2 separate regions of the Homo sapiens genome follow, and region 1 is linked to region 2. The links come from fine-mapping of genetic effects on gene expression. A gene starts in region 2. The other region holds a variant in brackets. All regions are shown on one strand. Distances are from middle to middle. Region 1 overlaps PTCHD1-AS (PTCHD1 and PHEX antisense RNA). Region 2 holds the start of DDX53 (DEAD-box helicase 53).

What was found. PIP is the estimated chance that this variant, and not a neighbour inherited with it, causes the effect.
Region 1: its variant is fine-mapped to the expression of DDX53 in prefrontal cortex (CommonMind, PIP 0.95).

The regions. Positions count from the first base shown.
Region 1 is chrX:22,731,177-22,747,593 of GRCh38, forward strand. PTCHD1-AS (PTCHD1 and PHEX antisense RNA) reads right to left here. Exons shown (of 12, transcript NR_073010.2): 4 at 12,053-12,162. Among named protein-coding and RNA genes, the nearest start is that of DDX53, 260 kb to the right of the region's middle. The variant A/G (reference allele first, on the strand shown) is at 12,167.
Region 2 is chrX:22,991,941-23,008,755 of GRCh38, forward strand. DDX53 (DEAD-box helicase 53) reads left to right here and starts at 8,020. Exons shown (of 1, transcript NM_182699.4): 1 at 8,020-11,649. The coding sequence starts at 8,118. The coding sequence ends at 10,013. All of the region lies in intron 3 of PTCHD1-AS (PTCHD1 and PHEX antisense RNA), which reads right to left.

The sequences.
Region 1 (16,417 bases), 260 kb before region 2:
GTATTTGCGGTGTCTCCCAGGTCCTTGAAGGAGCAGTCGGCTTCCTTCACAGGGTCTGTGGGTCCTCTCGGGATTGCTGATTTGTTCTTGCAGTTGATCTGGAGCTAAAATTCCCAATGTGAGCTTCTGCAAGGTGCTCTGTCTGGAGCTGCAATCTAGTCCTGCCTCCCGTCTGCCATGATTATTTTTCTTACCAAGGACTGAAGAGCTTTTATTTAACCTCATCAAACGTACACATGTTTCTCCTCTCTCTCATGAGAGATGTCTGGGTTCTCAGTGACATCAGTATAATGATTAACTTTATCTCACAACATATGCATGACCATTTCTGAGTAATATTAAAAAATGATTATCAATGGTGTTACATTCATTCCTTTCATTTTCTTTTGAGATTTGTGGATTACCTTTCAAAATTATTAATATTTCTTTACAATTAGGCAAAATATTTACACGGTTCCAAAGCAAATCTACGAAAGTAGAAGTCTAGCCACATCTAGCATATCTGTTTCCTCTATTCTCCTCCTATAAGTATTTAGCTATGTAATTTAAGAGAGAAGATAGAATTGGGAATTAAGGAGAAAACACTTGAACTCAGAGGTTAAAGTTTAATCATTGTAGGAAGGTTGTTGATCAAGAATTGGAAATATTCAGATAAGTAAAGTAGAGGATAAAGTGGAGTGATTTTAAATATTCATTGAATTTGCCAAAAGAGAATAATGATAGAAGACTTTTTTATGAACATGAGCAAAGAGTATAGAAGAGGGAGTGGGCATTAATGCCAAAGTCAGCAGAAAATCTTGGTAAAAATTTACAGAGTTAAAGGTATTTGATTTCTCAATAATGAGGTGCTTTTTTAAATTTCAGAGAAATAAGCTTCCTTGAAGAAGCAAAGCAGAGTTTCAAAGAATAATAAGGAATTGACTGGAAAGGAAATGGAAAAAGATAGCGTAAAAACCTTCTTGTGATCCTGGGTGTTAAAAAAGTAGGAACAGGAAACACACAGGGCTGTTGCTAGCTTGCAAAATACAATCAAATGAAGACACTTTATTTCCCTAATAAGGGAAATCTTAAAGTCAAAGAGAAAATTATCAGACGAGGAGTCTACAAAGAGAAGAGATGAAGGTGGAGCAAAACTCTCAAGAGTCAGCAAGAGCTGAATTCAAGGACAAAGAACAGTCAACAATTCAGTGTCCATGCACAGAGACTGGGCCTCTAAGTAAAAATTATGGGACATACAGCTTACACCAACGAAGCATATAATAAATCTGTATATATTTCTACACCAAATTTAAATTCTCCCATGGAGGCTGACCCTGTTTCCTAGTAGTGATATGCCTGAAAACCAAAAAAATGCCATGTCAGGCTTATTCTCCTGATTTACTACTCCCTCGGAAACAAAATCAATCCAGTTCATTGCTGATTTCTTCTGAGTATACTGGTGCATAGTTCATATTCTCAAATCTACTCCTAATTAAACACAGAATGGCTGTATTTGATTCTTTTGGATGCCTTAAGGTGAGTTCAACATGCCATGCTTACATATATGTTATCCTTGGTCATTGCCCAGGTTGTAAATCCCTGGGTCATTTAAACTCTTCCAAACTCTTATTCCCACATTGCTCCATATAGGCCTACCTTGACCTTTACTCCCGTATTTCTCCTTCCTCTCAAATCATCTCACTGTGTTCTCTGGGAACTCTTATTTCATGGTAAACTCTTCTGTATTCTCAAACTCTTTGTCAAATATTATTCCTTCCATCGCCTAGCCCTAGTCTGTATTCAACACTGCTATTTCTAAACCATCATTCTTTTTCTGACAAATGTCCTTTTGAGGATATGCTGTCCCACTGAATCTGTCATTCATTAACATCTCATCTTGTGTCAGTTTCCAAGCTTGGTTTGTCAGTTACTTGACATGGTCAGGAAGGAAAAAAATGGACATATGGCAGGTAAGTTGCTGAGGAAGAACATGGTGTACTACCTGGAAGACAGAATTAGAGCAGACATAGGGAAGGTGAATTGAGGGACTAGGCAGTATGTGTGAGCCACATTAAATCCTCAAGTAGTGAATAAGGTTTGTGGTATGTTGAAGCTGGCTGATACCAATTCACAAGAGCCAGCTGTTAAATTTTCAGAAATTTTGCAAGCCAGTAGACATCACCCTGGAAGCTCTACAAATATTATAAATCAGGACCCTTTTCTCCCATGAAATCTAGTTGTTTAAATATTTACCAGCACACCACTGGGTGGTAAGAAGGAAGAGGAAATGAAATACTAAAAGGATATAAGGTCAGGAAAGTTGAAAACAAATTTCACCTAATTCACAATTATGTCTAGGAGCAATATCACTCTAAGGCTAAGAAATAAAAACAAAGTAGACTTAAACAGTATATCCAAGAGGGGCAAGATTAAAGATAGATTCTAAAGAAAAATGATGGAAAATGTCATTTTAGCTTGACAAATATGATTCATTTGTATTGAGGCTGAATCACAATTGTAAAGAAATAAATGGAGATGATATTGACATGTTCTCCTATATCCCTAGATACCATTAGGTTGAACTCATTAAACAATATTTGTTTATTCTGTGCTTAATCAGGCACAGCTTTGGTTTTAGAAAACTTAAGTGGGTCAAGAACCTAGAAATCAACAAGAATAATGAGAAGATGGGGGATGTATTAGTCCATTTTGCCTTGCTATAAAGGAATGCCTGAGACTGGGTAATTTATAAAGAAAAGAGGTTTATTTGGCTCATAGTTTTGTAGACTGTACAAGCATGGCATCCAACAAAGAAGGTAAAATGAGTGGTTTCTCTTAGTCCTTTTCCTTTAGGTAAAGTATCCTGAGTTCTTTCCTCCATGGAGCTCTTTAGACACATTTTCTTGAAGGGAGAGATACCTGGAGAAGAAATGGATCTAAAAAAAAACTACTGTGAAAAGCCACTAAAGGCTTTCTCTGGCATCCGGAAACACTAGGCTACTGTTGGTGCTAGAGAAAGATATAAAAATTGAAAAGATAGATTTTTAAAATGCTATAAAACTCATCCTTTATCACTAAGGCTAGGTTATAAAGAGACCTTACTATGCACATAATCCAAACATCATGAATGAAAGCGTATTATAATGGGGCAATTCAAGATGCTATCTTTTGATTTGAAAACAAACAAACCAACAAAACAAAACAAAAGAAACAAACAAAACCCCTTGGCTTGATTTTTAATTCCAGAGTGCTTGTTATAACATGCATAATCTCAGATATGTGTCAAGCAAAACAAAATGACTGAGCAGTTATGCTGAGAGCTGATTTTAGCTACTGTACAAATTCAAAGACATTTTTCAAGGCAATACTTAAAAGTCCATGCTTCTAATATCTTTAATTACCATCTTCCTGTCAATACTGAAAAAAAAAAATCAGATACAAAATCAGACCTGAGAAAAACCAAAGGACCTATGTTTATTAATTAATCACCATGTTTTTACTTTCCTAGAACTTCTATATCTACGCTCCAACTTGTTCCACCCTGCTTTATGCTTTTAGGGATCACATCAAATTAGTTTTCTTGTTCTCTGACATTCAGTTGGGTGGAGCCAATGGAAAAAAACCTACTGGAAATCAACAAGAATGAGTGTGAGGTGAAGATATTTATTTTCCTTGCTCATTTCCTGTTTGACAAAATTAACAGGGGCTCCTTTTCTCTCCTGAAGGCTACTCCTCCTCCATGCCAGTAATCATTCCCTCCTGCTGTATCTTCAGGCCCAAGTGGTGGTAATGGCTCCCCACTGTTGCTAGTCTGGAGACTCTGTTGTGCCTTGTTAGTTCCCCTTCTTAATCCTGCTCATACAATTGCCAGTATGCCCCGTATTAAGCTTTCCTCAGTTTTTCCAGTAGAGCACGCCATCTATTTGCTATGCTGACCCTGAGTCAACCTTATTTTTTTTCACTCTTACTTCTGATTGAACAAACAGATTTTTATCCGTTGTTTTACAACAAAAATTGTGTGTTGATATCCTGTACTGTTTACCAGTTGCTACCAGTGCTATAAAGTGAAAAGAGATGAAGAAAGATAAACAAGGACATATATAGTAGGAAGGACAATTTGCTCTGCTATGGTTTTTAAGCTATATTTAAAGGATATGTGTATGGAGGATATGTATGCGTGGTACTCAAAAGACATCCTGAGAGACTACTGTACAAAGAGATGAGCAAAAATATTTCATATATTTGGCAACAAGCCTTATTTTCAACTATTTCTGGAGTGTCTCCATGTTGATTAGCCTGCTTAGAGCCTCCTATGGGCTGTCTACTCAAGATTTGGCATATGGAGGAAAATCACATGATTGTGCAAGCATTTTGATGAGGTAGAGAGAGCCTAGAGAAAGACAGACCATCTGAACTTGAGAAAAAGCTAATCATATTAAGTGATAAAAGCAAGATATAACAGGAACACTTTTATGCTACTAGGGAAAGTATAAATTGGAAGAACCATTCTGGTAAAATATTTTTATCTAATAAAGTTGAATTTTGAGCACGTCCTGCAACCCAGTAATTGCACTTTAGATTTAGACCCTAAGGAAACACTTGCACATTTTCATTAAGAGATATGGGTGAAAATGTTCATACCACTGTTGTTTTTAATATCCATTGATAGGGAAGTGTTCATACTAATGCTTTTAAACATCCATTGATATGAAACAGATAAATAAAAATGGTATATTTTCAATAGGGAATACCATATAGAAGTGAAATGTTCATATATTTCAAAATGGATGATTCTCATAAACAAAATGTTGAGTGAAAAAAAGTTGCAGAAGATTTCCTAAAGTTCAGTATCATTATTTGAGAGTCACCATGCCAGTGTAGCAAAAATATAAAGAAAATTGACAGAGCAGTCACTCCACATTGAGAAGAGTGTCCACTTTGGGGAGTGGGATAGAGAAGGGGATAGTGTTGGAGAGGGCAATATAGGGTGCCCATGGGGAACTTCAAATGTTGCATCTCTCAAGCATGATTGTGAGTTCAGGGGTATTTATATTACCCTTATTCACATATCTCACGTGTGTATGATATTCTTGTTATATATAAAATAACCAATCATAAAAAGGCAAAAGCAAGATAAACTTATTTGCAGTAAGTCAAACTTCATTTTTATATGCATATATGCATAGAACAGGTTCTGAAAGAATTTAAAATACAATATTTTAGCTCATTGGATCATGAGATCATGGTGATCATTTTCTTATATTTTTCAAATTGTCCATCATAAATAGAAAAGTATACTTTTAAAGAAAAAAGGTATAGCCAGTAATAAGTAGCAAATACTTGAAAAAAACACCAATACCTTCAATCAAGTTCTAGAAAAGTTATTGTATTGAATCTCATTGATATTAGGATTCACTGTAAAGAGGAAATACCAAATAAAAGTTCAGACACATGACTAAAAGGCAAATGAAAGAAGGAAATGTTCCCATGAGCCAATGAGAATGTCAACCTCTTGCAACAATTATGTCATAGGAGAAAAAATGTCAGAAGACCATTATAATAAGAAACTGCTTATAAAGCTGCGGAAGGTGACCTTAATCGTCCAGTCATGTTCAGTTCAAACCATTATTTGGCTTTCAGCTGCTATGTATAGCATCTGTGTGATATAGTCATGTTTAAAGGGGCTGTGGCTGTTCATTTACATTTGCAATCTCTCCTTTAGGCTGTTATTAAGATTTCACAGAGTTTGCAAAACGTCTGTCCCCTGAGACCTTGCAAAATGAGTGGCAAGTAAAAAGACTTTTTGATGCTCAATGTCAGGGAGGACGATTCACCTAGCTGTGCTACAGTCCAGAAACACCAAGACCTGTTATTACAATCCTATTTAATAACAAATATGCCAGTTATTGAACTTATATTAACTCTCTGTATAACTGAAGTATACACAATTGTATTTATTGACATACTGAGAGTGGTGTTTGATAACATCATATTGTTTGAAACAAACAAGGCGGTGCAAGTGTTATTCATTATAACACAATATTCAATACTGATATTTAGATTTGAGTCAGAAAGCATGATTTTAAGACTGATGGGCTCCCTGTCATAAACCTTACCTTGTGTCTTTCAAAAATAAAAAAGTTCTTGGTTAGCGTGACCCCTTTTCTCCATAAGCATACACGTCTTATCTTTCTTTAACCCTCTGTACCATGTATTGTTTCTACTAAAGATGTTAATAAGTGAGATTTCCAGTCATCACTGTTTTTCTGGTAGTTTTAGGTACTATGTATATATCTTTTTTTTTAAACGCACATGGTCTCTTAACTAAAACTCAACCAAACATTATATCATAGCTTGAGACAATGTGAAGCATGCTAGGAAAATTATTTGTGAACTTAATATAATTAATTTTGAAAAAGAAACCTAGAAACATGATAATAGGCTTCATATATGGTTTCATAAAATCATAGAACATCTGGTTTGGAAATGGTCTTAATGGTCGGTTAGTCCAACCATTCACCCCGGGCTTAAATCCCTTCTAAAACACTCCATCTATTAGTCTCTATGTCATCCCTGAACTGCCTGTTCCAGGAAGGAAGAATAGAAGACTTTTGGAAGCATTCCATTTAAAATAGGAGGTACTAATTTATATATCCATCTGTGCATACAAAATATTACTCCATGCATTTACTGCTCCTTATTTTAAATGTGGTATGGCATACATTACTGGGGAAAAAAAATCCTTCCCTAGCTTTCTTACACATATTCCTTTAAAAACTAATTTGACAGATCCTGGAGCTTTCTCTTCTTTGACCCCCAAAATGAAATAGTGTCAAAGAACCTAGTTTCTAGGACACATGCGAGGACCTTAAAAAAATACCTCAAATGAATCATCATTTTCATCTTTTAAATTTATTTTGACTGCTTGTGTTTGGTCCAAGCAAGTCAAGGCAAATAGTCACACAGCTTCTTGCCAAGATTATGTTCTAAATAAGAGAGGATACTTGCAAGAAAGACACACTGGAAAACTCAAACAATCCTAAAAAAGCTGTGTTTTATAAGAAAATCACACAACCACCAGATGATCACCATTAGCTGTTAAGATTTAACAGGACAATTCTAAGTTTCTGTGTCAAAGAAAGTTTCATGGAGAAGTGATTTTAGGGCTCTTTTGCCTCTAGGTACAAAAAGTGCTTGGCAAATCCTAAGGAATAATGCTTTTTTACCCTAAAATTTTAACTTGCAGCAATGCTTGAAATCACCCCATTACAGAATCATAGCTTTGGGGTTTAGAGGTCTCTCAGTTTTCAAGATCCCCTGGCACCAAGCTCCTAACACACACCTATTATGGTGTAAAGCTTTACTGAGGGGGTGACTGGTCTGGAATGAAATGCCCAATAGGCTTTTGACAGATAGCAGGGATCTCAGATACTAGAAGATACAGAAAGGGGAAGAGGGAGATTAAAGATAAACTTCACTCCTTGCTCAGTTTTCCCAGTGCTTATCCTTCCAGTGTATGTTAACTTATTTATTATTACCTTTGGTTTATCCTTAAAGTCTTCTTATAGACCTACCTGAGGCCAGGGCAAAGATAGTCAAACACTTTTGTTGATCCAAATGTATGTAACTATCTTTTTTCAGGGATTATATCTCAGTACTTACATCTTTGGGGATGTCTATATAAAATTTATATCCAATCCTGAGTAGCTTTAAGGAGTTTTTGTTTTCTGTTGCTGTTGTTGTTGTTTGTTTGGTTGGTTGGTTTTTGAAATGGAGTTTTGCTCTGTCACCCAGGCAGGAGTGCAGTGGCGTGATCTTGGCTTACTGCAATCTTTACCTCCCGGGTTCAAGCGATTCTCTTGTCTTAGCCTCCCGAGTAGCTGGAGGTGCCCGCCACCACGCCCAGCTAACGTTTTTGTATTTTTAGTAGAGATGGGGTTTCACCATGTTGGTCAGGCTGGTCTCGAACTCCTGACCTCAGGTGATCCACCTGCCTTGGCCTCCCAAAGTGCTGGGATTACAGGCGTGAGCTGCCACGCCCGGCCAGGAGTTCTTTTTAAATTAGCATTATACTGGGCACATATTAGGTGTTTTATAAAGGTATTTTACTGAGAGTAGCTGGAGAACATTTGTAATGGTAAGAAATAGTTCCATAGTGAGTCATTTACCCAGCTACTTTCCAGTTTGAAGAATTAAGTGGGAGTCATTAAGACTGAATCAATTTCTATATATATATTTTCACTTCTAAATTGGCAAAAGAATCTGAGAGGAAGAACAGACTTCAAAACGACTACGTTAATAGAAACAAATGAGCTGTTTATTTTACACGCAGTTATGAATATTATAAATACATTATTCATCCAGCAGCTGAAAGACTTATGTCACTTAAGTGCTTGGGATGATCAAAAGCAAAGTGGTTTCAATTATTAAAAATGGGGAGGTAGGGAGAAGAAACCAGAAAAAAGACTTACTAAATGATGAAGTGCTGTACTGTCATAATGAAAATATGTAGGCCTTTCTAGGTCATAACATTTTAAGTGAATTTAAACTTGTAAGTGCTAAGAAATAAGTAAAGTAGCAAGTAATTCTATATTGCATAGTTAACAATAATTTACTGTATATTTCAAAATAGCTAGAAAAGAAAATGTGAAGTGTTCTCAACACAAAGAAACGATGAATGTTTGAGGTGATGGGTATCCTAAATACTCTTATTTGATCATTACACATTGTATGCATGTATCAAAATATCACATGTACTCCCTAAATATGTACAATTATTACGTAGCAATACAAATAAAATAATCCAGTAAAATGAGTTGGTTTTTGCCTTCATCATTGTCTTATCTTGGGGTTTCCCAAAAATCAGCATCTGAGACAAAGACTGCCTTGCCTCTGAAGGTTAAGTGTTGCTTTTGGCCTCTACCATTCCGGAATTTCCCTCTTTTCTCCATTGATATTAGGAGGTCCAATTGCATGGCAGCATGTCTTTCTGTCTACCCTAGCCTTCAGAGGACATTTCGTTGATCATTGCCATTTCTTATTGCCTGAGTGAAGGAACTGTCCTATGACCCCTCTGGGGAATACGGTCAGGTGGTGGGTTCACTGTTATCACAAAATAAATCTATTCTAACCTTTTACTTCCTTAAGCCTTCTGCACTGTTCAGGTATTCCTGTATCACCACCTTGTTTACTCCAGGTAATTACTGTACCAAAACTTCAAAAAGCTGGCTGGGTGTGGTGGCTCATGCCTGCAATCTCAGCATTTTGGGAGGCTGAGACGGGCGGATCACTTGAAGCCAGGAGTTCAAGACCAGCAAGGGCAACATGATGAAATGCCATCTCTACCAAAAATACAAAAACTTAGTCGGGTGTGGTGGCGTGCATCTGTGGTCCCAGCTACTTGGGAGGCTGGGGAAGGAGGATCGCTTGAGCTCAGGGGGCAGAGGTTGCAGTGAGCTGAGATCATGCCACTGCACTCCAGCCTGGGTGACAGAGTGAGACCCCATCTCAAAACAAAACAAAACAAAACAAAACAAAACAAAACAAAACAAAAACACTTCAAAAAAAGCCATCTCAGAGTATATTAGAGAAAAATTCAGGTGTCCTTGTCAATACTTTGAACCCCAAATCACAGGTGACTGAATAAATAAAAATATAATAGTGTTGTACTTGTATTCTATTTTTATTCACATAAATATATATTTGTGAATGAAGAATATAAAGGTCATTCATTCTTCGGGAGTAGCCAAATATTATTCTTGGATAAAACATGTAATGTCATTGTTCCCAAACTTGTATTCCATTGTTTTGGTTACATGTAAAACTGGTGTTACTGAATATTGCTTTGGCATTACTGCTACAATTCACGTTTTTGAGAAACAAAAATACAGAAACTTCCCTTCGAAATTACTGTCAGAGTGACGTTGAGGACAATGTGTTTCATATCCTGTAACAAGCTGTTCATCAGGACTCTCAAGAGAAATATCTCTTCATGCTCATATCAGGAAAAGATGGTTTTTTGTGAAACAAAACCTTAAAACATATTACAAAAACAGTCAACCTTGCAAATAATGCAGTTCTTTTTGCTTTGGCTACTGGGAAGCTCAGAGCCAAATCTACATTCTACTTCTAGTGATTTAATGGGATTTTACAGTAGGCATTTCTTAAACTAATTGTATCTTCTGGTTTTATTTTATTAATCCACTCTTATTTCCTTTTCCATTGATCTGTTCAACAATTTGTATTTTATTTATTATTTATCACGCAAGCAACTTCAAGGCCTTATTTATACTTACATAGGCATAAATTAATCTAGTTAAAAACAATTGATGTAGAGAGCTATTGAATGTACTACCTTACATTTTAAATTAAATGAGAGATGAGCTTATTGAAAGTAAGTGATACCGCAGAGGTGGAATGGGAAACTTGAAGAGCAGTTTTACGTTGATGAAGAGTAAGCAGCTCTCAAGTCATTAATCAGTAAAGTATACATTTATTATTTAAAAATTACAGCACTGGTAAAATCAGTAATATGGCATTAGACTGATATTTTGTTGCACTGTTTCAAGTCACAATAAAGTTTCAAAGAAACGAAATACTGATTTTACTTTACATGTCTCATTTTCTGCCTAACTATTTAGGTCAGGGAATTTGTCTTTACTTTTAAAAAGTGTATCCATTAAGAATACTAATACTGAGGCTATAGTCTGAGTTTATTTAATTTGCCAATTGAAATAATTCCATGGAAAACTGTCAAATGTATAATTCTGGCACATAACAGAATTAACCTTATATTACAACAAACAAAACTCATTTTAAAAATCAATGAAACCCATATTACAGCAAAATATAAGGAGATAAATTAAAAATATAAAATATTATTAGAAGAGCTTGCCTAGAAATGACGAGCTCTATTGAAACACTACCGCACAGCCAGTTAGAACATGTTTATGCTTAAGAAACGATGGAAATAATTACTAAAAAGAATGACACAAAGAAATATAAACAAGGATCATAAAGCAGAAGAAGACTGAAAACAATGTGTATATAATTGTCGGAATATCAGAGTGCTCTGAACTTTTAAAATCCTGAATCATCCAACAGGATGATGCAACAATATTCCAATCTTAGAATGGGAGGATTTGACAAAACCTTAGTGTTTATCCCAAGCTAGGGGTTAACTCCCAGGGGAAATTATGAACTAAGTGCAGCAATTAATCATGGTGATGAGTAAAAAAGTACAGTAACATCTCTGTGACCAACTCATGGGAGTGTGGAGAAAGTCCCTTTGGCAGCTGTCTGCCCAGCTAATGGTACTTACTAATTAATGGAGAGGCCAAATCTGAACCTACCCTACAGCCTTGTGCTGAAAGCTGCTTTGTAGCTATTCATATAAATGTAGACTGGTCCAGGTCAAAATACAGTAAAAGTGAGGGCACTTTTTGTCTCTATGTCTCTGGAAGGAATAATAAAAGAAAATTATCAGTGAGTCACATGAGGCTCCATAATCCACGATAGACTAAACAGTAAATGTGGCCTTTTCCTAGATCAGTGTGATTAATTCAAAAGTCAGAACCATCTGTAGCAGTTTTAAGAACAGAAATAAATTTATAAAAAGTAATCATACCTTTTCAATAAAAAGTAATAAGTAATACCTTTTAAATATATCTTTTATCAGCATTTGACTGGTAGCAGCCATTTGAGTGGCTATTTCATGCAAGCATTTATCAGCCATTCCGGAAGAGGTGGGTTGCAGTGGGGGCAGAATTCTGGTAACCAAAGAATCATTTATTAAATGGTTCCATTCTTGATCAGTTTAGCTTGCTTATAGTAATCACATCAATTATTTATGGAGCACTTACCATGTGCTAAGACATGTTTTCATGTGACATTTTTTCACTTAGTTACCATAATCCTGTGAAGTGGGTGCTACCATCCTTCCCATTTTCCACTTGAGGAAACAATGGTTTAGAGTGGATAAGTACAAGCCTGGTGTATAGAAGACAGTCAGAAAGTGGGATTAAAGCGTGGGTTTATCCCCATGGCCCACTTAAACTCTTATGTAGTTACTTACATGGATACTGCCTCTGAAGCCATGTTCAGTCAGTTCTCCAGGGAGCTCCATTCTTGCTCCTTGAAAAGTCTTGGTAGTATGCTAGCTGTTCTATTCCAGAATAGAAGCTTCTGT[A/G]CTATTCCAAAGAAATAAGACATGATTTACAATTTCATACATGGTAAGGCATACACCTACCTAGTTTCCAAGATAACATCTCCTATATCTTTTTTTCTCCTCCCTTATCCCTTGTCAAACTTGAAAACTCAATTTTAGATCAGAAAAGGACCCTAGAGGCTATCTTGTCTGGCCTTCTGATTATTTTAAAATGGTAAAACCAAGGTCAAAAGAGGTTAAATGATTTCGAGTTGGTCAGTAGGGCTCCCCAGTGTCTGGAGTCCCCATCTAGTGCTTTGTCCCATTATCTTACAGTAGTTTTCATCTCTGCCCCGTATTTTTCCAGGCATCTGATGCAGGAAAGGTATGATGAAAATGATTTTTTTCAGTCTAGTAAAGGAAACTTTACCACTGACATTTGGACTGCTCTCATGGTATAACAGAAACACTGACACAGGCTTTAGCAAGCTTCTCTATCGCAACCACAGGCTGTGACTCTGGACACAAACAGTACAGAAAATTAATCTCAATTCTCTGTTTGAACTAAAAGGAAGAAAGCAAACACATGAACGTGTCAGAATGGGGAGTTAACCTGGAGAAGAAATAAGAAGCCAGATAAAAATAGAAAAGCAAGAAAGAACTTAGGAAATATATAGGGAAATATCAGCAGTATAAATCAGATTAACATGGGACCCCCCCTTGTCATTTTTAGGTTTAACATTTCTGATCTGTCAGACAGTTTTCCTATCGCCATTTCCTTCTGCTTCCCTGCAGCCCTTCTTTCTGACACCACTTGGGAAAATAATCTGTAAACTAATTACTAATTGACATAAGATTAACTAAAAAGAGCAGTCACACACACATATGCACATCCACACATAAACTTGTGCCTATACACTGTATAAGTCATGTAAATAATCACACTGTACCCCATAAATATGTATAGTTATATCATAAAGAATTTTAAAAGCCCCAAACTCCACAATTTTTAGACACTTTAGATGCCTACTATTGTAATACATAATCTTTCTTGCAGTGTTTCACAGGGTTCTACTGGTATTTTGGGTGAAACAATTATTCCTTGGATAGACTATCCACACGTGACATGATCATTATCCCTTCTGCCACCAAATCCCGTTAGTTGCAGTTAGTCATCCTGACAACCAGAAAACACCCTTAGGCATTTCCAAATGCCCCCAGGGTGGGGCAGTACTTTCCTAAGTGAGAAACACTAGGGCTGAGAACAAGACTCTAGGTCCAACTCAGAGGAATTATTAACATAGATTGATATATTTTATTCAAGACATATTTACTGAGTGCTTGCCATGTGTAAGGCCCTATGGTAGCTGGCTGCTAGGTGCTGGGGGGTACATTGGTAAGTCCAAACAAATAAGGATTTTGCTGTAATGGATCATGCAAGATGGTATGAGAGACACATATTGATTAAATCTTCACACACACACACACACATAAATTATAAAGTTCTAATAATAGCAACAAAGAGACACATAGTGTTATTAGAGTCTACAGAGGATAAGTTAGAGAAGATTCCCTGAAAAAGTGATGCTTGAGCTGAGATCTGAAGCATAAGCAGGAGTTTACTTGGTGATGACAAAGGGCAACAACATTGTTGGTAGAGGAAACAGCATGTTCAATGCTGCACCGATGACACAGAGCACGGCATGTAAGAGAGATGAACAGGAGGCCAATGTGGCTACACCTGAGAGAATGAGAGGGAGCTCCCTGTGAGATGAGGCTGTAGACATAAGGAAAAGCCAGTTCACATGTGGCCTTGGAGCCTAGTCAATAAGTAGAATACCCAGGCGTAACTAACCAAGTGAAAGCTGGTAGAAAGCAGAAGGAAGTAGATTACATAAAACATTGATTGATCAGCGGGTGTTGTCTCATGAACCTTTTAATCAAATCAGCTCTCATCTGGATGGAGGTCAAGTTTGCACAGATAAAAAATATCTTCAGTGTGTTGTGATTGTGTAGAATGTACTCACTCAACAAATTTGGTACCATGCAAGGTCCTATGAAAGTTGTAACATGTAAGACTAGATATCTGTTGGGGAACGTTGGGGGAATCTGGTGACAACCTGGAAAGGTCAAGTGTTTCAGGGGAATGAACACTGAAGTTGAAGCTTCAGGAACTGGGTCTTGCTACCAGACTTTCTTGCCTCATGGGAACTCCACCAGTCCCTGATCAGAATTTTCATCCCTAAAACAAGGACAAAAATACCCAAGTTTCTGGGCAAGATTAACTGAACTATCTTAAGGGAGAACATCTAACCCAATATAGAGTACATCCCAAGTGCACAATTCATGGTTTTAACAAAACAAAGTTTCTTCAGCTGTAAAGTAAAGGTCATAATAACTTCTCTGACACTCCAAGGATGTTGTCATCAGGCCAAATGGGAAAAGCTGGTAAAGAAGCACAAGGTATTACTATCATCAATGAATAAATGTGGCATGAATGGCACCCTGAACTTAACATCCCTTGTTTTCTCTGTTGTAGAGGCGAACTGCTCCATTGAATACCCTTTTCCTCTTAGCCCTCAGAAAAATCACGGGTATGGGCAAGAAGAAATGATGATATGCAGTTTTTGATACGATGAAATAAACATTACTGTGATAAGATTTTAAGTGCTATAAATCTACATGTACACAAATTTTCTTTGGACGCGTTGCAGAAAACAAAGTATTGTTTCCAAATAAGCCTATGGACCAACATTTTGTCAAATGTTAGCTAATCATGGTTCTTTTTTAAGCAAATCCAGTTTACAGCAATTTGCAGGGTGTACCAATGCTGGGGATGCTCCGCCTCATATCCCCTCAGCCCACCTTTAAATAAACATGTAGGTGTAGTGAACACTTCCTAGTATGCTGATAACTTTCCACTGCAAGTGCCTGTTTTCACTGCTTCTCCATGCAAGGGCTTTCTCTGCAACTGTGGCAGCTTGCCCAGCCTGCTTGTTGGGAAGCCTAGAAGCCTCTGAAACTTAACCGCCCTAGGGATTACCCGCAACCCATAATGGCTGAGAGTTGGCAGATAAATATTTCATATTACTTTGTTCTCTGATGGAATTATTCTGAAGCACGTTCTACATGGTTGCTCAGAGGGTCCTCAATAGGACTGAGGCCTAGGAGTCCACTGAGATAACCTGCTTATTAAAATTCTTTTAGGGATTTTTCCCTTCTCTGTCTCACTTCCCCTGCCTTCTTGTATGCACTTCTTATAATTAACTACCTGAACCCACTTCTTGTCTCGTGATATACTTTTGGGAGAACCCAAGGTTAGACATAGAATTCCTGGAATTGTTCAGTTCATAATGCACAATTTCCACTTACAATGGCACACTGATGACTACTCTAAAAAAAATGGCCCTGTTCTCTGTAGAAAGAGGAGATACCTACTTTTAAACATCTCTTAAGGGGAAAAGTCTAAAATCAAGGATACATTTCATGGGAGGGTGAGTGTGATCTGTTTAGAATATCAGCATTTAGATTTTAAACTGCATTTGAACATTAGGCCACACTAATGCCCACTAACTTTGGAGGGTCATTTACTTTAAAAGCAACTAGTTGAAAGATTAAGTAATTTAATTTGATAGATGGCTTTGTGCCTGAATGTGCTTTAACACCTTTTGATCCTAATTGCCTATATTGAAGGTGTTAAGTTTGACTTGCTAAATAAAGCCTAGAAGGAGTTAACATTTCATTTGAGTGACCTACAAATGCCCCCCAGCCAAGCCTCTTGGAGTGCTTCTAATGGATGCTAAATTATACAACCCAAGTGATTAGCTATTTTAGATACTGAATTAGTAAGGATGCTAGACCATAAGCTCAATGAAGAAAAGAGCTGTACTTATCTTATTCACCTTTCTACCTTAATATGGTGCCTTGTACTTACTAAGTGTTCAACAAAGTTTTCTTGAATAAATGAACACATGGCAACCTCCATTTAAATGACTTTTATTATTCTCATATGAGTTAAGATGGGAGAAGATTTGGCATTTAAATGGTTGGCAATCTAAGGAGAAAATACTATCACGCATCTATCCTTTATCTTCAGTGTGAAGTTATAAAGTCAGAAAGCTACCCCACTCTTTTCTGGTCCATTTACATATTCATATCTGGGAAGTGAGAAGCAAGAGAAAGTTGAAAGACTGCAAGATGTAAGAGTGATCCCTAAAAGAAACACTTCACCCATACAAATACTTGCTTAAACTCACTATAGTCTGTTCTTTCAGAAGAATCCGCGTGAAGGAA
Region 2 (16,815 bases):
GATATATTTTGAGAGACTTTTAAAAATACAAATTAAAAATTATCTATTGGACAGAGCCATGTGTAGATCTTAGCCTTTGCACTTGCAAATCAAAGCTTTACAAGAGATGCTCTCCAAAGTCAATCCTTTACACCTCTACAACCCCATGATTTTAAGAATTGTTGTTTGACTTCTTTATGCAATGCAAAATGATATAGATAATCTTGTTTATCTTTCTACTTACCTACATCATAGTTATCAGAAATGAAATAGTTCTGGAAAGCCCTTCAAATGCCTCAAAATAGAGGCAAGGTTATTATTATTTTTAAAATGAATACCAATATGTTAACATTTCTATAGGAAGTAGTTGGTAAGCAAGGATTTCTCTGAAGGAGCTTATTGCAGGTGCTAATCAGCTCACACTATTTTTTACTGTCTGTGCTGAAAAAAGAATTAATTACTTCAGTAACCTCACTTCTTCACATACCTAAATAATGCATACCCCTATTCTGTGGAGAATAAACTAAATTTGATAGAGAAAAGTTTAATGCGTAGCTAAAGATAGCACTGTAATCTCCTTGAAAGAACTCTCAGCACTCTCCTCCCTCCTTTTAAACAGACTTTCCTTTTCTGAAACTGCTAATGAATGGTTCTTGTATCCTTGTGATTCCCTCTCTCATTGTATATCCTCCCACATATTTCCAAAGACTATTAAAGTTCATTTTCTTCCAATATTCATAAGTAATTTTCCTGAAGTCCATTGGATCCTTACCAGAACAATTGCAATAACCTGTCCCCGAAAGTCTTGTTTTCTAGAAGCATTGTTTAAAATTAAGACATTGCCTTTGAGCTTCAGGTACAAGATACATAAAGTTCTCACTCCATCACTACAAAGTTCCCCAGTGGTCTAGTCATCTCTCATTGAAATTGTTTCCCTTAAAATACGTGTTTCTCCATCATTCTACAAAAAGGGCATTTTTTTTTTTTTAAGACGGAGTCATTCACTCTGTTGCCCAGGTGGGAGTGCAGTGGCACAATCTCAGCTCACTGCAACCTCCATCTCCCGGGTTGAAGTTATTCTCCTGCTTCAGCCTCCCGAGAAGCTGGGATGACAGATGTATGCCACCATGCCCGACTAATTTTTGTATTTTTAGTAGAGATGGGGTTTTGCCATGTTGGCCAGGCTGGTCTCGAACTCCTGGCCCCAAGCAATCTGCTTGCCTTGGCCTCCCAAAGTGCTGGGATTATAGGCGTGAGCCACCGCGCTGGGCCAAAAAGGGCATTCTTGAAGGTCATTGATGATTTTCATCTCCAAAACTGAGTAGTCTACCTCCCTCCTGTCATTCTGAAGAATTTTATATTGTTTACCAAAACTCCTCGACAAGTTCTCCTGCCTTATTTCCTACTATGTAGACTCTCTCTTCACCTACCTTCCTGTTTTTCTCTTCTCATTATCTAATCATATGAATTCTATGGTTCCTTAAAATGTTCTTAAACCTGTCTTTCACTACTGTCTATTTGTTCAAGTATTCAATTAGAGTTTCAACTATAACTTCTATGCTGACTATTCTCAAATCTCTCTTCGTCTTCTCATCTGAACTACAGTCCCAAATCTCCAGGTTCAGTTAGCATTTTTACTTGTATGCCCCCCACAACACCACAAACTGGACATGACTGAAACCAAACTCCTCTGCTTCCCCTCCGCCTTTCCTGTCGAATGGCTTCAAGATTCTCTGCTTCAATAAGTCTCTAACCTGGAAGACTGAGTCATCTTTAATTAAAGACTCTTTTTATCTGAGAACCAGGCACCAAATCAAGCACATTTTTTCCCTAGAAACTAGGATTAGGTGGAAGGGAAAAGACCTTGAAGCTAACCATATCCACGTTTAAATTTATTCATGTTTAAAGTTATTTACCGTAACTTTGCATGAACTTGGATATATTATCTAACATCTCTGAGCTTCAATGTTTTCACATGAAAAAGACGGAAAATACATACCATGAAGTTGCTGTGGTAATTTAATGAGATAATACACTTAAAATGTTTGGCATATAGTAGAACTCAAAAATGTTAGTTGCTTCTCAGACGTGATTTTTCTATCTGTTCCATTCTCCGAGTTCCCACTGCTAAACTACCACACTCTGTTCAAGTCCCTCAGTCCCATGTACTTGAGATATCAAAAACAAAGCCCCCATTTTTCAACCCCACTTCCCTGCATTCTACTTTCTCCAAAGGGACCCACTTCCTTCATTAATGTCATATGACTCCTTCATTCTAAGTTTCCCACTGTTTTACCATATTAACTTGATAGTTCATTGACTGTCCTTAAGGTTCCTAAAAGTTCCCTTTTCCTTTCCCCTGACCCAAACCATCCTTCTCCATTTCCCCTTTCTCCTTAACCTGAATTTTTTGTCCTAGTCCTCCAGGCTGCCCTGATTTCTTCCCAAAGGCCACACTTGTTTTTTTTCCCTGAAACTTTAACATCCTTCTATCTCTAATTTCATACCTCCTATAGTATCAGATCAAACCCACTCCCCTTATAGGTCTTTGCCTCAACTCTCCAGCCTCTCCAACCTCCCTTCGGCCCTTCTTGCCTGCAACCATTATTAACACCTAATAGCATTCTAATTTGTGTTTGTTGGGCTAATTGTCTTAGTCTGGCCAGGCTGCTATAACAAAACACCATAAACTGGATGGCCTATAAACAACAGGAATTTATTTCTCACAGCTCTGGAGTCTGGGAAGTCCAAAATCAAGTTACCAGCAGACTTGGTGTCTGGTAAGGGCCCGCTTCCCGGTTGACAGATGGCCACCTTTCCATTGTAACCTCACATCACAAAAAAGGCATGGGGTTTCTCTCAGGCCTGTTTTACAAGGGCAAGCTAATCCCATTCATGAGAGCTGTACTCTCATGACCGAGTCACCTCCCAAAGGCCCCATCTCCTAACACCATCACCTTTGGGGTTAGGATTTCAACATAGGAACTTCGGGGGAACAAAAACATTCAAACCACATTCGATGTTCCACATCAGTGCTTACAAGCACTTGGGTTTCATACACCAATAACATTTCAAAGCCTAATTAGGCTACTGGCCATTAGATTTACATTCTTTCTTGCCCTAGGAGAGACCTTTAAAAATAATTTGAAATCCTTATTTCATTTTAAAAGTATATTTTACAAAAGATAGTAGGGCATAATGTTAGAATAAAAAAGTTTACATTGAATAAATTTAGATTTGGGTAAAAAAGTTCTATTATCCTTGTTTTTTTTGTTTGTTTGTTTCTTTTTTTTTTTTTTTTCATTTTGATATGGACCAGAGGAAGCTATCAGGAAAATCCTTGGACAGGGAATCTCCATGATTGTCTCTCTATACCTACTGTTTCTGTAACAGGGATAATTGATACTTGGAGAGTTCCTACTATGAACCAATTAGTAAAACTTTGTGTGTGCCTGTGTGTGTGTATGAGACAGGTACTAGTATGCCATTCTACAGACAGCAAAACTAAAACAATTTTCTCATGACTCACAGTGAATAAATGGTGAAAGTGATATTTGGACCCAGTTATTTAAGGTCCAGTGTTCTTGATTGCTAACTACACCACACTGCTGCTACTTCTTTAGACTCTGTGGTATGAGTATGATTCTATATACAAAATAAACATACCAATATGTACAATGATAATTGCAACATTTGCCATAATATAGCACACCTATTGAACAGAATAATGGCCAGATATATATCATCCCAAGGAAACTACTTCCATAAAGAGTATTTATAAATTGTAAAGTGCTGTACAGATGCAAAACCAACTGTAATTATTATCATCAACAGTGCTAACTGGAATTCCATAAGTCAAGTTTGCCTTAGACCATCACAGCAGATTTATTAAATAAAACACTATCACTATCATTTCTAAGGGAGTCCCATATATGAGACTATTTTAGGCCAGCAACATTAACTCATCTTTAAGAGAGTTTTGAAGAAATCGGAGTGATGGCAAATTAGCCCAATTCACTGCCTGCAATATTTCACTCTCTTACTGTTGCCTCTAAGATTATAGGGACTGCCCTAAGCAAAATGGTAGAAACCGTCTTAAACATACTCTTGTCTTTCCTTACATAACCCTTTTTATCTTACCTTGGGGGAAACTTTACACATTCTTCCCATCTTTCCCACTCTCTGCCCTAAAAGAATCTTTTAGCCAGCTGTTCCACTGGAAAGCATCTAACCGACAAATTCACATTTTTGTGTTTTGTTTTTCCAGGACCATGCTAATAACATACCAAGCCATAAGCCATAGAGATACATATTTAGTGAGAATATTTCAGATACAGTGAATAAGGCCGTTGTAGAGATATTTAGAGCAAAGAACATCACACTGGTGGCCCTTAATTGAGCTGACAAATATTTTTTCCAACTGATACGGGCAATTGTAAATGGTAATGAATCATCCTGAAAGCACAATCCCTCTCAGTATCTTCAATACCCACAAGTCTTCTACCAGTTCTGTGTCATCACAGTAATTCACCACAATGAGTTCCACCTTAAAGTGCACTGCTCTCTACCCAGATTTTACAACTACCCCTCTCCCAACAATATGACTTTTCTTCACTTCACTTTCATGGCCTCTTCTATTTTTCTGTATCACCCACAAAAAATAAGAATAGAAGCAAGTCACTTCGTAGTAAAGGAGTAATGTCCTGTACTATTTTCCCGACTGGCCACAAGTCAACAAATGGTTCTAAATTTTTACTCTCAATAATTTGCTGAGTACCTTCAGTCAATTCCAGAAAGATTTTGGAACCTCAATTTCACTCTCTGTAATAAGGGAGAACAAAATGACCTCTGATGTACCCAACACCTGTAGAATTCTACAGTTCTGTAATATTAACTATTATTCAAAGTAAAGATGAAGGCATAAAGACAGAGAAACATAATACATCCTTCAAGAGGTAAAAGCCACGTGTAACTAAACAAATTTCCTTTTAAAATAATGAATAAACTAGAAGACATTGAGAATGCCTTAAAATTCCTAATACAATTCATGGAGAAGTATGGAGGAGTTGTAATGTGACTTGATCAGAATATATCCGGTTCAACAACCAGATGAAAAAAAAAAATTGGTCAGGTAATTTGTATTTATCCATACCAGTGGTTTCCAAAATACATTCCAAAGAACACTACTAATTGTAAAAAATAATAATAAAGATTGCATTTAAATGCAAACTGAGCCCTTGAGGGTTGTCTGGACTTAGTGACTCATTCCACAAAATAGAGTATGGAAAGGGAGAAATAATAATTTTACAGTGTAGAAAACTTGAATAACACAAATTATCCAAGGGACCGAGGTTGACCTTACCAATGATGGGTCACGTTGACATCAGGTACCTATCTCCCCAGTATGATGTGATGAGATAGGCTCTTCATCTCTGTGATATTTTCTTCCAAAAGCCCATAACCCCAGTCTAATCATGAGAAGTTACATCAAGCATACCTTTTTGAAGGACATTCTACAAAATTCCTGATCATTACTCCTCAAAACTGGAAAGATTATGAAAAATAAGAAAAAACTGAGAAACTCTCACAAACTGTACATAACTAAATGCAGTATGGTGTCCTGGAGTGGAACTTGAAACCGAAAAAATACATTAATGGAAAACTGGTAGCATAAAGTTTGGAATTTAGCTAATGGTAACACACCAATAGTGTTTTCCTATATTTGACAAATGTATCATGATAATGAGATATGATAAGATTAGAGGAAACTGAAACTGGCTGAGGCTATACAGGAACCTCTCTGCACTACCTCCGTAACTGTTCTGTGAATCTGAAATTATTCCAAATAAAAAGCTTATTTAAATAATTGATGAAGATATCCATTAGCAAATTCGTTTGGGGAACTTTGGATTAAACAACTGATTTTTCTCAATGTCTGTAAATATCATAGCTCCTAAAATATCCAATAAGCATTGTGATTTTAACAGAGAGAATATAGGGTGCTGTGTTTCTCAAACATATTTGACCAGAAACCTTTTTATTTCTTCAAATAGCATCTTTTACAAAAAGTACTGACACAGAGAAGTTTTCTCCCAAGGTGTCAGACTTCTGTCCTATACTAGACCATGATGAAATTTTAATCAGTGACTGACTAAAGAGACAAAGATGCTATGAACATTAAATTGGCAGAAGACTTGAAACTAGAGACTAATATGATGGATGACAGAATAATCATTAAAATTATATTTCATAGGTTACATCAATTGATCAAACTTAATAAGATGACTATAAAAGGATACATACATAGTCTTCATTTAGGTAAGCAAATTAAAAAAAAAATCAGCTGAGTAAGTAAAAGAAGCAAGAACTTAAATGCACGTCATGTTACTGTGAGCAGCTTTGTGTCTCAGGAGTTCTTAGGTCAAATTAGTAGAATTGTCATGCTCAGTAAAGATGCCCTAATAGTAGGAGTAATGCCATTTCTGCAGATTGTTTGCTTGTCTTTTCCTGTTTTTTAGTTCTGCGTGCTACATTGTAAATGGTCCTCAATGAACCATTTCCAAAGGAGAGGCAATAGGATGATGTGTGTCTTGGAAACCATGTCATAGCAAGAAACGTCGAAGAAACTGGAAATGTTGCCCTGATGCACAGAAAACTTTGACAGAGGCTGGGCGCGGTGGCTCACACCTGTAATCCCAGCACTTTGGGAGGCCAAGGCGGGTGGATCACCTGAGGTCAGGAGTTCGAGACCAGCCTGGCCAACATGGTGAAACCCTGTCTCTACTAAAAATACAAAAAATTAGCCAGGCTTGGTGGCAGGCACCTGTAATCCCAGATACTCGGGAGGCTGAGGCAGGAGAATCACTTGAACCCGGGAGGCCAAGGTTGCAGCGAGCCAAGATCATGCTATTGCACTCCAGCCTGGCCAACAAGAGTGAAACCCCATCTCAAAAAAAAAAAAAAAAAAAAAGAAAGAAAGAAAAGAAAAAGAAAAAAAAGAAAACTTTGACAGATCCTTTAGTACACAAGGATACAGGAGAATCAAGCCTATTCTGTATAACTTCAGAACTCAGAAGGACTTAAGGACACAGGAAGCCGCACGTTTTGGTTCAAAAAACTTTTGTAACCATTAAACAGCCTCATAATGGAATGGATATTTTTGAAATGAAGTGAGCTCCCTGCCTCTGGGAGTGTCTAAATGGAAGCTGGATATCCCTCTGTCCAGACTGCAGCTAGAATGTCTTCTACGTGTACCTAATAAATGAGTTCTACACAACCTTCCAGTGCTAAGGTCTCAGAAGCTATCAAACCACAGGGAAGGAAAAAAAATGAAGAGGCACTGAGAAAAGTGACAAACCACTAAAAACAGCCCCTAAAGTACCTTAGGCACTGCTTTACCTCTCTTCTAACCATCATCCCTGTAATAATATCTGGAAACTGCCTAAACAAGTGTTGACATTTAGTTGATGAATTAAGGCAAAACGCTGTCCTAGAGTGTGCACCTAAGAGATTTCTGATTAGTAGAATTTAAGTTACACTAGAGGACAGGGAATGATGAATTTATCCTGACAAAGTACTGTATTCACTCCAAAAGAAATTTACCAAAATAAATGAACACACGAATATATAAATAAATAGTTTTACTTTAAATGCATTATTTTTTTCTCTTAGGGAAATAACTGGCTTATATAAAGGACAATGTGTATATGGTGTGTATGTTTAAGGCGTGCTTCAAGGTTGCTCTCAAGCTGAGCCAGAACTATCACGAGAAGAGTGAAAGGAGCACCCGGGACGCAGAAGTTAAGGAGGCAGTTACTCCTAGGGTCCTGTAAGTGCTGGCAGGGTCAGCCCGTGAGAGTGAGTGCCTCTTTAAATTTGCGTCACAGACGCCTGCTTACCTCACCCCAGTCCAAGCCCTGTGATTGGTCAGGCCATCAAAGCCTCGCCCCCTACACGACCCGGAATTCGACGCCAACACTGGTTTCTGGGGCAACTTCTGCGTAGCTATGTGACTAGCACCCGGAAATAATTGCCACCGCCATCTTTTGGTGCAGAAGGTGACGGGAAACAGGCCGCAGACCTGAACTTCCAACCGTATGTAGGCGAGAAGCCGGTGCCGATACTCCCACTATCCCACAATGTCCCACTGGGCCCCAGAGTGGAAGAGGGCGGAGGCTAATCCAAGAGACCTTGGGGCCAGCTGGGATGTCAGGGGCAGCAGAGGCAGTGGCTGGAGTGGCCCCTTCGGCCATCAGGGACCGAGAGCAGCAGGCTCCCGTGAACCACCACTCTGCTTTAAAATAAAGAACAATATGGTTGGTGTGGTCATTGGTTACAGTGGATCAAAAATAAAAGATCTACAACATTCGACAAACACTAAAATACAGATCATAAACGGGGAATCTGAAGCAAAAGTCAGAATTTTTGGCAATAGGGAAATGAAAGCAAAGGCCAAAGCGGCTATAGAAACACTTATTAGAAAACAAGAAAGCTACAACTCAGAATCCAGTGTGGATAATGCTGCATCCCAAACCCCTATTGGAAGAAATCTAGGCAGAAATGACATTGTTGGAGAAGCTGAGCCATTGTCAAATTGGGATCGCATTAGGGCAGCAGTCGTGGAGTGCGAAAAGAGAAAATGGGCAGATCTACCACCAGTTAAGAAAAACTTTTACATAGAATCCAAAGCAACAAGCTGCATGTCTGAAATGCAGGTGATTAACTGGAGAAAGGAAAATTTCAACATAACGTGTGATGACTTGAAAAGTGGTGAAAAGCGTCTCATTCCAAAACCAACTTGCAGGTTTAAAGACGCTTTTCAGCAATACCCTGATCTTCTGAAAAGCATAATAAGGGTAGGGATTGTAAAGCCAACGCCAATTCAGTCACAGGCATGGCCAATTATTCTACAAGGAATAGATCTTATAGTAGTTGCACAAACCGGAACAGGGAAAACATTGTCCTATCTAATGCCTGGGTTTATTCATCTTGATTCTCAACCAATATCTAGAGAGCAAAGGAATGGGCCTGGGATGCTAGTCCTTACACCCACTAGAGAGTTGGCTCTTCACGTGGAAGCTGAATGTTCAAAGTATTCATATAAAGGTCTCAAAAGCATTTGCATATATGGTGGTAGAAACAGAAATGGACAAATAGAAGACATTAGCAAAGGTGTAGATATCATTATTGCAACTCCTGGGAGGCTGAATGACCTACAAATGAATAACTCTGTCAACCTAAGAAGCATAACCTACTTGGTTATAGATGAGGCAGATAAAATGCTGGATATGGAATTTGAACCCCAGATAAGGAAGATTTTATTAGATGTGCGCCCAGACCGACAGACTGTTATGACAAGTGCAACTTGGCCAGATACTGTACGTCAACTAGCACTTTCTTATTTGAAAGATCCTATGATTGTTTATGTTGGTAATCTGAATCTAGTGGCTGTAAATACAGTGAAGCAAAATATAATTGTTACCACAGAAAAAGAAAAACGAGCTCTCACCCAAGAATTCGTAGAGAACATGTCACCCAACGACAAAGTCATCATGTTTGTCAGCCAAAAACATATTGCTGATGACTTGTCAAGCGACTTCAATATCCAAGGCATATCTGCAGAATCATTACATGGCAACAGTGAACAGAGTGATCAAGAGCGAGCAGTAGAGGACTTTAAAAGCGGAAACATAAAGATACTGATTACAACTGATATAGTATCCCGAGGTCTTGATCTTAATGATGTCACACATGTATATAATTATGATTTCCCAAGGAATATTGACGTATATGTACACAGAGTAGGGTACATTGGACGGACAGGAAAGACTGGCACATCAGTTACCCTCATCACTCAGAGAGATTCGAAAATGGCCGGTGAATTGATTAAAATTCTGGACAGAGCAAATCAGAGTGTTCCGGAAGATCTTGTAGTAATGGCTGAGCAATACAAGTTAAATCAACAAAAGAGGCACAGAGAAACACGATCAAGAAAACCTGGACAAAGACGCAAGGAGTTTTATTTTTTAAGTTGAAAAGTTGTACCAGGCTACTGGAAGATTCCAGGCATGTTAAAGATATGCAGTATTGAATATATGTAAGGAAGTATTGGAAACATACTAGCCATTTGAAGACATAACTAATTCTTAAATAATACTGCTAAACTTTCAATATTGTGTATGCTCCTTAATTTTAAAAAAGTCTCAAAAATGAGAGAGTGAGAGACTGTGTGAAGAGAAAGTGAATGTTACGTGTTGGTTAAAGTTTAATTTCTCTTAAAAATACTTTTATTTTAGGTTTGGGGGTATATGTGAAGGTTTGTTAAAGAAACACGTGCCATGGGGGTTTATCAACTTTCAATATTGTGTATGTTCCTTAATTTTAGAAAAAGTCTCAAAAATGAGAGAGAGACTATGTGAAGAGAAGGTAAATGTTATGTGTTGGTTAAAGTTTAATTTCTCCTAAAAATACTTTTATTTTAGGTTTGGGGGTATTTGTGAAGGTTTGTTAAAGAAACACGTGTCATGGGGGTTTATCAACTTTCAATATTGTGTATGCTCCTTAATTTTAAAAAAGTCTCAAAAATGAGAGAGTGAGAGACTATGTGAAGAGAAAGTAAATGTTACGTGTTGGTTAAAGTTTAATTTCTCTTAAAAATACTTTTATTTTAGGTTTGGGGGTATATGTGAAGGTTTGTTAAAGAAACACGTGTCATGGGGGTTTATCAACTTTCAATATTGTGTATGTTCCTTAATTTTAAAAAAGTCTCAAAAATGAGAGAGTGAGAGACTATGTGAAGAGAAAGTAAATGTTATGTGTTGGTTAAAGTTTAATTTCTCTTAAAAATACTTTTATTTTAGGTTTGGGGGTATATGTGAAGGTTTGTTAAAGAAACACGTGTCATGGGGGTTTACTGTACATATTATTTCGTCACCCAGGTATTAAGACCAGTGCCCAATAATTATCTTTTCTGCTCTTCTGCCTCCTTCCACCCTCCCCCATCAGCTAGACCCCAGTGTCTGCTGTTTCCTTCTTTGCGTTCATAAGTTCTCATCGTTTGCTTCCCACTTATAAGTGAGAACATGTGGTATTTGAGTTTCTGTTCTTGTGTTAATTTTATAGTCTACCATGTCCATTTGTCTTCTCTAAAACACTTGGTAGAAGACAACAATGGTGCTTTTCTGGCTTTAAAATAGTTGTACTAAATTGAAGCATAGCTTCAAGCTTATCCAGTCAAAGTATTCTCTTTTCCCCCGAGCAGTTGGTGCCACAACAGTTCTTAAAGTTATTTCCACTATCATTCTCTACTTGTTTTAGTTCATTAGAAAATAAGTGCTAAATTTTTTAGAAGATTCCACAATTCTATTTTTATCAGAATGATGTCACCAGCAGAGCAGGATGTCTGACTCACTGGGATTCAGGTCCTTGTATGCATTTTGTCACTAACCCTTGGTTAAAACTCTGAGGAAATCACTTGCCTTCTCTAGGCCTCAATTTCTCTACTCATAAAATGGGACAGTTTTATTAATTTAGAGGTCTCTTTTACCTCTAAAATTCGGTGACATTATAACTAAAACTGTATACCCCAGCCTTGTATTAACACTTTTTTGTCTAATCTAGGGGAAATTGCATCCTTGTATAATTGAATAAAACAATCCTTTTCAATGACAAGAATAGTGCATTCTGCATTTTTATTGATTTTGCAATTTAACTGGTAGGTTTTCATTTTATTCTTTGCTTTTCTTTTCATCATGCTTTATTTTAATTCAATTTGAAGGTCAAAACCATATATATATAGATACATATATCGGGGAAAAAATTAAAGTGAAAGAAAAATTTATCTACTGGGAAAAACATTAAAACCAATCAAATAAGGGCTGGGTGCGGTGGCTCACGCCTGTAATCCCAGCACTTTGGGAGGCCGAGGCGGGCGGATCGCCTGAGGTCAGGAGTTCAAGACCAGCCTGACCAACATGGAGAAACCCTGTCCCTACTACAAATACAAAATTAGCTGGGTGTGGTGGCGCATGCCTGTAATCCCAGCTACTCGGGAGGCTGAGGCAGGAGAATCAGTTGAACCCGGGAGGGAGAGGTTGCAGTGAGCTGAAATCGTGCCACTGCACTCCAGCCTGGGCAACAAGAGCAAAACTCTGTCTCAAAAAAAAAAAAACCAAAAAAAAAACCAAATGACGTTTTTGCCATAAGAACCAATTTTAGTAAAACTCTTCCTAATTTTATCTATAATTCTACCTCTTATGCCTTATTTAGAAGCAAGGTGCTTCTCACACCTGCAAAAAGAAATCCCTACAAAGATGTTAAGTAAACTTTAAAATTCAGTGTTCATGAAAACATTAGAATTAGTTAACATTTCTGGTAAAATCAAGAGAAAAATTAAGGCAACAAACTTTTTTCCCCAGCATGCCTTACCTGTGACTACAAATAAGTCAGAAAATAAGGGAAAGAAAGAAGTAAATGTTCTAGGTATAGGTATTTAAGGCTTAAAGTATAGACTTTAAAGGCTTTTTAAAATGTAGACCTTAATATCTCTGGATAAAATTAATAACAATGGTTAACATTGTTGAGTGATACATACCTGGCGCTTTATCTCCTAATCTCTAATATTTATAAGAACGCCACTCGGAAGGAAATCTTACCCCTATTTTGCAGGGGATGAAGCAAAGTCAGAGGAGCTAACTTGCCTAAGGGCCCTAAACCTGATTAAAGAGAAATTAAGTGATATTTAGAGGACTTAAGGGATATTTTGACCCGGCAGTGCCTGATTCCAATATTTATATTTTTTAATTTTAGTATAGTTATTATGTTTAAAGGCAATATGCTTGTCTTGAGGTTCTCTACAAGTTCAGATTTAGTGAAATAGAGAAGTGTGTGCAAATTTAATGCAAAGGCAATCTATAGCAGAACTGTAATAGAAGCTCAAATGGCTTAGTGCTGTTCACTCAAGAGGAGAAATGATAAATGTTTAGCAAGTTAGAGTATATGTTATTTTCCAGAATTATTCTTAGGGGCAATGCTATATTTGTTAGAAAAGAATGCAACAACTCAACCACTTGAGATAGTATATTTCCATAATCATGTGTAAGTAACACTTAACAAGAAAAATTATCACTCAATGTCTATGAGTAAGGAAATGAGAGATGTATGCATTTCTTCTACAACATAATGCTGGACAGAAGAACCAGTGTATAGAGAAAGATAAGTAGAAATAGTGCAATGACTGTTAACCAAGGGTGATTTTGCTCCCCAGCGGAACTTTGACAATATCTGTGGACAGTATTGGTTGTTACAGCTATGGGTAGGGGGTGAGGTGCTCCTAGCATCTAGTGGGTAGAGGCTGAACACCCTACAATCTACAGGACAGCCCCTCACAACAAAGAATTATCTGGCACAAAACAATAGTGCTGAGATGGGGAACCCCTGAGACAGCATAAGAAAAACAACCAAAACCAACTGCTTAGTAACCAAAAAGGCACGTCAAAGAAAAAAAAAAAATAGAGGGTTTCTAAGTTATATCTTGCGGGTTTTGCAGAGAAAAAGTATCCCTACAAACTTCCTGTCTTTGGTGTAGTCTACATCAGTGGTTCTCTACCAGGCCCAATTTTGTCAATGTCTGGAGAAAGATTTGGTGGGTTGTTGTCTTAGTCCATTTTCATACTGCTATGAAGAAATACCCAAGACTGGGTAATTTATAAAGAAAAAGAGGTTTAATGGACTCACAGTTCCACATGGCTGGGGAGGTCTCACAATTATGGTGGAAGGTGAAGGAGGACAAAAGGTGCATCTTACATGGTGAGCAGGCAAGAGAGTTTGTGTAGGGGAACTCTCATTTATAAACCATCAGATCTCATGAGACTATCATGAGAACAGTGTGGGAAAGACCCACCCTCATGATTCAATTACCTCCCACCAGGTCCCTCCCATGACATGTGGGAATTATGAGAGCTGCAATTCGAGATGAGATTTGGGTGGGGATGCAGCCAAACCATATAATTCTGTCCCTGGCCCCTCCCAAATCTCATGTCCTCACATTTCAAAACCAATCATGGCTTCCCAACTGTCTCTCAAAGTCTTAACTCATTTCAGCATTAACTCAAAAGTCCACAGTTCAAAGTTTCATCTGAGACAAGGCAAGTCCCTTCCACCTATGAGCCTATAAAATCAAAAGCAATTTAGTTACTTCCCAGACATAATGGAGGTACAGGCCTTGGGTAAATCTGCCCATTCCAAATGAGAGAAATTGCTTAAAACAAAAGAGCTACAGGCCCATGCAAGCGTGAAATCCAGCTGGGCAGTCAAATCTTAAAGCTCCAAAATGATCTCATTTGACTCCAGGTCTCACATCCAGGTCACGCTGATGCGAGAGGTGGGTTCCCATGGTCTTGGGCAGCTCTGTCCCTGTGGCTTTGCAGAGTATACCCCCTCTCCCGGCTGCTTTCATGGGCTCGAAATGAGTCTCTGTGGCTTTTCCAGGTGCACGGTGTAAGCTGTTGGTGGATCTACCATCGTGGGGTATGGAGGATGTTGGTCCTCTTTTCACAGCTCCACTAAGCAGTGCTCTAGTGGGGACTCTGTGTGGGGGCTCCCACCCTACATTTCCCTTATGCACTGCCCTAGCAGAGGTTCTCCTTGAGGGCCCTGCCCCTGCAGCACATCTCGGCCTGGGCATCCAGGTGTTTCCATACATCCTCTGAAACCTAGGCAAAGGTTCCCAAACCTCAATTCTTGACTTCTGTGCACCCACAGGCTCAACACCACGTGGAAGCTGCCAAGGATTGAGGCTTGCAACCTCTGAAGCTGCAGCCCAAGCTCTATGTCGGTCCCTTTCAGCCACAGGTGGCATGGCTGGGACGAAGGGCACCAAATCCCTAGGTTGTACACAGCAGGGGAACACTAGACCCAGCCCATGAAACCATTTTGTCCTCCTAGGCTCCAGATCTCTGATGGGAGAAGCTGCCATGAAGACCTCTGACATGCTCTGGAGTCATTTTCCCCATTGTCTTGGGAATTAACAGTTGGCTCCTCATTACTTATACAAATTTCTGCAGCTGGCTTGAATTTCTCCTCAGAGAGTGGGTTTTGCTTTTCTATCACATCATCAGTATACAATTTTTCTGAACTTTTATGCTCTGCTTCCTCTTTAAATGTAAGTTCCAATTCCAAACCATATCTTTCTGAATGAATAAAACTAAATGTTTTTAACAGCACCCAAGTCACCTCTTGAATGTATTGCTGCTTAGAAATTTCTTCTGCCAGATGCCCTAAATTATATCTCTCAAGTTCAAAGTTCTACAGATCTCTAGGGTAGGGACAAAATGCCATCAGTCCCTTTGCTAAAACATAGCAAGAGTCACCTGTGCTCCAGTTCCCAACAAGTTCCTCATCTCCATCTGTGACCACATCAGCCTGGACTTTATTGTCCATATCACTATCAGCATTTCGGTCAAAGCCATTCAACAAGACTCTAGGAAGTTCCAAACCTTTCCCACATCTTCCTGTCTTCTTCTGAGCCCTCCAAACTGTTCCAACCTCTGCCTGTTACCCAGTTCCAAAGTCATTTCCATATTTTGGGTATCTTTACAGCAGCACCTCACTCTACTGGTACCAATTTACTGTATTAGTCCATTTTCATACTGCTATGAAGAAATACCCAAGACTGGGTAATTTATAAAGAAAACGAGGTTTAATGTATTCACAGTTCCACATGGCTGAGGAGGCCTCACAATCATAGCAGAGGGTGAAGGAGGAGCAAAGGCAAGTCTTATGTGGTGAGCAGGCAAGAGAGCTTGTACAGGGAAACTCCCCTTTATAAAACCATCAGATCTCATGAGACTTATTCATTATCACAAGAACAGCACAGGAATGACCCGCCCCATGATCCAATTACCTCTCACCAGGTCCCTTCCCCGACATATGGGAATTATGGGAGCTACAATTCAAGATGACATTTGGGTGGGGACACAACCAAACCATATCAGTCGTCATAACTGGGGGTGATGGTGGTGGTACTGGTATCTCCTGGGTATAGTCGGAGGATGCCACTAAACATCCCACAATTCATAGGAGAGCTCCCTAAAACAAAGAATTATCTGGCCTGAATGTCAGTAGTGCCACAGTTGAGAAACCTTGCAATGGATTAAGCAAAAATAAAAGCGCAAACCTAGGTGTAGAGAAGCCAAGAAGGGACTTTATGAAGGAAAACAAAAAGAGGATATTCATTTGTTGTGCACTGCGCAATACAAAATCCTCCACTGGCTGGGCATGGTGATGCACGCCTGTAATCCCAGCACTTTGGGAGGTAGAGGCGGGTGGATCACCTGAGGTCAGGAGTTCGAGACCAGCCTCACTAATATGGTAAAACCCCCATCTCTACTAAAAATACAAAAAATTAGCCAGGCGTGGTGGCGGGTGCCTGTAATCCCAGCTACTCAGGAGGCTGAGGCAGGAGAATCGATTGAAGCCAGGAGGCGGAGGTTGCAGTGAGCTGAGATGGCGCCACTGCACTCCAGCCTGGGTGGCAGAGCAAGACTCTGTTAAAAAAAAAAAAAACCCTCCACTAACTTTCCTTTCTTTGGTATAATCTGTATTTCTCAGCTGGAGTTGATTTTGCTCCCTAAGGGACATTTGGCAATGTCTGGAGACAATTTTAGTTGTCCCTACTAGGGGGCAGCATTGCTACTGGCATCTACTGGGTAGAAGTCAAGGATAAACAACTTAAAATGCACAGCACAGTAACTTAAAACAATGGATTTTTCAGTCCAGAACATACAGTGTTGAGGTCAAGAAACTGATTGCATTGATTGACCAGTGAAGTTTTTGTGT